Linked DNA regions of Homo sapiens: region 2 is linked to region 1. The links come from fine-mapping of genetic effects on gene expression. A gene starts in region 1. The other region holds a variant in brackets. All regions are shown on one strand. Distances are from middle to middle. Region 1 holds the start of GSTP1 (glutathione S-transferase pi 1). Region 2 overlaps LRP5 (LDL receptor related protein 5).

Region 1 (2,903 bases):
TCCCAGGCAATAAGGGTGCAGGTTGTGTCTTGTCCCAGGCCCCTGGGCCCCTGGCCCAGAGCTGACCCAGCCCCTGCACCCTGACCCAAGAAGGGGTCAGCCCAAGCCACCTGAGGGGTAAGGGGGGTGAGGGCACAAGAAGCCCCTTTCTTTGTTCAGCCCCCAGTGCCCAACCCTGGTGCAGATGCTCACATAGTTGGTGTAGATGAGGGAGATGTATTTGCAGCGGAGGTCCTCCACGCCGTCATTCACCATGTCCACCAGGGCTGCCTCCTGCTGGTCCTTCCCATAGAGCCCTGGGGTTGGGTGGAGGGGAGCAGGCCGCGTGACTGGGCGCCTGATCAACACACAGTCACTGGGGATGGGCCAACCAGGGGGCTGTCTGTGAGCCCCAGCCTGGGAGGAGGGGAAGAGGATGTGCGTGGAAGGATGAGAGACTGCCACACAGCAGGTGCTCAGAGCTCACCTGACACCTGGGAGGCAGCCTGGCACAGGGCAAGGATTGCAGGCACCCAGGCTTGACCTTGGGCAAACTACGTAACCTCAGTGGGTCTCAGTTTCCTCCACTCCAGAGGGCTGCGGGGCAGCTGATTTAAACAAAAGGGCTCCGGGGGCAGAGGCTTGCCCATGCCTGCCCTGGACTTGGAGGTTCAAGACTCACCAAGGGTGCGGCCCAGGTGACGCAGGATGGTATTGGACTGGTACAGGGTGAGGTCTCCGTCCTGGAACTTGGGGAGCTGCCCGTATAGCTGTTGGGGGAGGCATGGCTCAGGGAGGGGCACTGAGCTTGGGCGTCCCCCGATCCTAGTCACAGCCCCCTAAGGCCCAGCACCCCCTCCCCTTGCCCGGGCATGGTCACTTACGCAGGAGGCTTTGAGTGAGCCCTCCTGCCACGTCTCCACGGTCACCACCTCCTCCTTCCAGCTCTGGCCCTGATCTGCCAGCAGCATGCGCAGGGCCGCGCAGCGGCCTGCGGGGAGGGAGAAGTACGAGATGTGGGGACCGGGCCGACTCCGCCTCGCAGCAACCCGGGGAGGGGTCAGGAGTGCAGGGAGGGAACAGGGAAACAGGTTCCTCCGAAGATTTCACACAACACTGGGGCGGGGAGCAGGCATGGCGGGAGAGGCGGGGAACAGGAAGGAGGCCCGGGGTAAAAGCCACACGACGGAGGGATAAGGGGGTTCGGATCTCTCCGGGTGGGCGAGGGGCTGTGGGCTGCAGCCCCAGCCCCTGCCTCCCTTCCCTGCCAGACACATGCTCCTACCTCGAACTGGGAAATAGACCACGGTGTAGGGCGGCACTGCAGCGAACAAAGAAAAGTTTGCTGGAGCCCGGGGGAGGATGCCAAGGCGCGGTGAGCGCAGTCTGCCCCCCCTCCCCGCCCCCGGGGTCCCATCCCTCCCCGAGGCGCTCCGGGCCCCCTGAAAGCCGCTAACGGCACTGGGGACGTCCTGGGTCCCCTAGGCCCCCGTCCCGGGTCTCGAGGTGGGCGAGGAGCCCTGCCGGGAGCCCGGGCCTGATGCTGCGGGTTGGCCCCATGCTGGGAGCTCTGAGCCCCATCCCCGGGGACGCGGGCCGCGCGTACTCACTGGTGGCGAAGACTGCGGCGGCGAAACTCCAGCGAAGGCCTCGCGGCCTCCGAGCCTTATAAGGGTGGTCCCGCCCCGCTCCGCCCCAGTGCTGAGTCACGGCGCCGGCCGCTCTTCTGGAGGGTCCCGCGGACTCCCGCCGGCCCCAGCCCCGGCGGCCGCTGCACCCCGGGCGTCGGCCGCAGAGGGGCGCCCTGGAGTCCCCGGAGTCGCCGCGCAGCTGGCCGGGGAAGCCTTTCCCTCTTTCCCAGGTCCCCAGCGGGGCCTAGGGAGTAAACAGACAGCAGGAAGAGGACCGCAGCGAAGTGTGCGCAGCGAACTGGCGCGCCGGGACATCGCGGGGGGAAATTCCCTAAGACCGCTGCGATCCCGGAGCTTGCACACCCGCTTCACAGGGCAGGGGAGAGGGGTGGAGGCCGCTTAGAGGAAAGGAAATTGCTTTATTTTATTTTATTTTATTTTATTTTTTTATTTTATTTTATTTTATTTTATTTTATTTTATTTTATTTTATTTTATTTTATTTTGTGTTATTTTATTTTATTTTATGACGTAGTCTCACGCTGTGGCCCAGGCTGGAGTGCAGTGGCGCGATCTCGGCGGCTCACTGCAACCTCCGCCTCTCGGGTTCAAGCAATTCTGCTTCAGCCTCCCGAGTAGGTGGAATTATAGGTGCGTGCCACATCTGGCTGATTTTTGTATTTTTAGTAGAGACGGGGTTTCACCATGTTGGCCGGGCTGGTCTCGAACTCCTGACCTTAGGTGATCTGCACGCCTCGGCTTCCCAAAGTGCTGGGATTACAGGCGTGAGCCACCACGCCTGGCCGTCCAACTTTTATTTGAAGTTCTGGGGTACATGTAGAGGATGTGCAGGTTTGTTACATAGGTGTGTGCGCCATGATGGTTTGCTGTACAGATCATCCCATCACCCAGGTATTAAGCCCAGTATCCCTTAGCTATTCTTCCTGGTACTCTCCCTCCCCAGCACCCCGCTCAACAGGCACCAGTGTGTGTTGATCGCCGCCATGTGACCATGTGTTCTCATTGTTCAGCTCCCACTTATAAGTGAGACCATGCGGTCTCGCTGGTTTTCTGTTCCTGTGTGAGTTTGCTGAGGCTAACGGCTTCCAGCTCCACCCATGTCCCTGCAAAGGACATGATCACGTTCCTTTTAGTGGCTGTGCCTTAGGCTATTTTCTTTGGCTTTGCTGCCTACTTTCTGTTGATTTGCAGATCTCCATTTATTCTAGATATTGATCTCTTGTTGGCTTTAGACATGACAGACAGCTTCTCCTATTCCATCAACTGTCAAGTTT
Region 2 (2,903 bases), 740 kb before region 1:
AAATTAGCCAGGCGTGGTGGCGCATGCCTGTAGTCCCAGCTACTTGGGAGGCTGAGCCAGGAGAACAGCTGGAACCCGGGAGGCAGAGGTTGCAGTGAACCAAGATGGCAATCGCGCCACTGCACTCCAGCCTGGAGGACACAGCGAGACTCTGTCTCAAAAAAAAAAAAAAAAGAAGAAGAAGAAAAAAGAAAAGAAAAAGACAACAGAAAAATGGGCCAAGGATAAGTGTAGGCAATTTGCAGAAAAGTAAATACCAATAAACCAGAAATGAGGGTTGTGCAAATCAAAAGGTGTTATAATTTTTAACCAAACTGGACCAAAGAAAACACCAAAAACCAAAATCTTGTAATTGCCAGCATCAGAGAGGATATAGGAAAGTGTGTGTTCTCGTAGATGCTTGCAGGTATGAACTGCTACAGCCTTTTAGGAGTTATGTATGTATGTATGCTTGTATGTATGTATTTGAGACAGGGTCTCGCTCTGTTGCCCAGGCTAGATCTGTTGCAGTGCTGTGATCATGGCTTACTGCAGCCTTGACCTCCTGAGCTCAATAGATTTTCCCACCTCAGCCTTTCAAGTAGCTGAGACTACAGGAGTGTGCAATCATACTCAGCTAATTTTTTAAATTTTTTGTAGACATGGGGGGTCTCCCAATTTTGCCCAGGCTGGTCTCGAACTCCTGGACTCAAGTGATCCTCCTGCCTCAACCTCCCAAAGTGCTGGGATTACCTGGATGAGCCACTGTGCCCGGCCTCAATATCTTTAAAAACAGAAATGGACACACTCTTTGACTAGGAATGTATCCTATAAAAACACTTATACACATGCAGAGACACACGAGCAAGCATGCTTTGTAATAGCAATGAAGGCTGGAAAAACTCCTCAATCAGGTAAATGCTGTCAAGTGCACCTGTGTACTATGAAATGGCACTTGGCTTTTAACAAGAGCAAAGACAGAAAAGCAAAAGTACAAAGTAGGGTGTGATGGCACATGCCTGCAGTCCCAGCTACTCAGGAGGCTGAGGCAGGAAGATCCTTTGAGCCCAGGAGTTGGAGGCCAGGAGCTGGGCAATAGTGAGAAAAAATAAAATTAAATAATAATAATAATAAAATAGGCTGGGCACAGCGGCTCATGCCTGTAATCCCAACACTTTGGGAGGCTGAGGTGGGAGGATCGCTTGATCCCAGGAGTTCAAGGCCAGCCTGGGCAGCAAAGCAAGACACCCATCTCAACGACAAATTTTAAAAAATCAGCCAGGCAGGCTGGGCATGGTGGCTCACGCCTGTAATCCCAGCACTTTGGGAGGCCGAGGCAGGCAGATCACTTGAGGTCAGGAGTTCGAGACCAGCCTGGCCAACGTGGCAAAACCCTGTCTCTACTAAAAATACAAAAATTAGCTGGGCATGGTGGCAGATGCCTGTAGTCCCAGCTACTGAGGCACAAGAATCGCTTGAACCAGGGTGGCAGAAGTTACAGTGAGCCGAGATCGTGCCACCGCACTCCATCCTGGGCGTGAGTGAGACTCCTGTCTCAAAAAAAAAAAAAAAAAAAAAA[AC/C]AAGGAGCCAGGCACGGTGGGGTGAGGGAGGGCACAGAAGCAGCGCCTCTTCTGGGGGCACCCCCAATCTCTAGCGATCCAGAGGCCTCAGGATCCTGAAGGGAGAAAAAACGTGAAGCTCCGTGCTAGAAGAGACCATAGAGATTGGAATCAGCTGGTTCTATTTTACAAAAAAAGGAAACTGAGGCCCTCAGAAGGTGAGTGCCTCTCAATGCCCCACAGGGAGGCAGGGAGAGGGCTCTGAGCCCTGCAGGGCCCTGGATTCTTGCAATGGGGTGGAGTGGAGCCTGTGCCGCCCCCACCAGGCACCTTCTCAGGAGAGGAGCCGTTGTCATATCCTTGAAGGGGTCCTTGAGCCCCTCAAAAGGCTAAAAACCACTTTCCTCCTTGAGTGAACCTTCACCTCAGTTTAACCACAAGAAAAACTACATTAAGGCCCAGCGCAGTGGCTCATGTCTGTAATCCCAGCACTTTGGGAGGCTGAGGTGGGTGGATCGCTTGAGCCCAGGAGTTCAAGACCAGCCTGGGCAACATAGTGAAACCCTGTCTCTACAAAAAACAACAAAATCAGCTGGGCGTGGTGGTGCACACCTGAGGTCCCAACTACTTGCGGGCTGAGGTGAGAGGATTGCTTCAGCCCAGGAGGTAGAGGCTGCAGTAAGCGGTGACTGAATCACTGCACTCCAGCCTCAGCAACAGAGCAAGACTCAAAAAAAAAAAAAAAAGCAGGCCGGGTGTGGTGGCTCACGCCTGTAATCCCAGCACCTTGGGAAGCCGAGCGGGAGGATCAGGAGATGGAGACCATCCTGGCTAACACGGTGAAACCCCGTCTCTACTAAAAATGCAAAAAATTAGCCGGGCGTGGTGGCGGGTGCCTGTAGTTCCAGCTACTCAGGAGGCTGAGGCAGGAGAAAGGCGTGACCCTGGGAGGTGGAGCTTGCAGTGAGCTGAGATCACACCGCTGCACTCCAGCCTGGGCGACAGAGCAAGACTCCATCTCAAAAAAAAAAAAATTAAATCTCAAAAAAAATTACATTAAGGCAAACTAAAAGATGTTTAAAATATATATATTAAATTAAATACACTCCAATAGAGCAAATAAGAAAATACCCAGAAAACACAATCCCCGCACCCCCAGGACAACCTCCCAGGGGGTCCACAGCAAGAGACCCCAAGCACGAGAGACAGAGAACAGTGTCCCTGTGGCGGAACCTCTGGCCCATCAGGCTCTATTAGAAAATAAGGCTCTTGCCACTGAGAGAAAGAGGCACAGTCGCCCAGCAGCCACGGGCTCTGGCACACCACGAGTCAGGCCAGCAAAGTGTCAACTGCCCCCTACAAGGT

The links.
Region 2: its variant is fine-mapped to the expression of GSTP1 in activated naive CD4 T cells (Schmiedel 2018, PIP 0.95).

Annotation. Positions count from the first base shown.
Region 1 is chr11:67,582,531-67,585,433 of GRCh38, reverse strand. It overlaps GSTP1 (glutathione S-transferase pi 1), which reads right to left and starts at 1,622. Exons shown (of 7, transcript NM_000852.4): 1 at 1,590-1,622; 2 at 1,265-1,300; 3 at 864-970; 4 at 662-749; 5 at 193-296. The coding sequence starts at 1,590. RefSeq lists silencers at 1,243-1,392, 1,710-1,852, 1,403-2,022.
Region 2 is chr11:68,317,729-68,320,631 of GRCh38, reverse strand. The region is part of intron 1 of LRP5 (LDL receptor related protein 5); the gene reads right to left. It overlaps LOC124900302 (a long non-coding RNA gene), which reads right to left. Exons shown (of 2, transcript XR_007062749.1): 1 at 1-2,903. Among named protein-coding and RNA genes, the nearest start is that of LRP5, 6.6 kb to the right of the region's middle. The variant AC/C (reference allele first, on the strand shown) is at 1,559.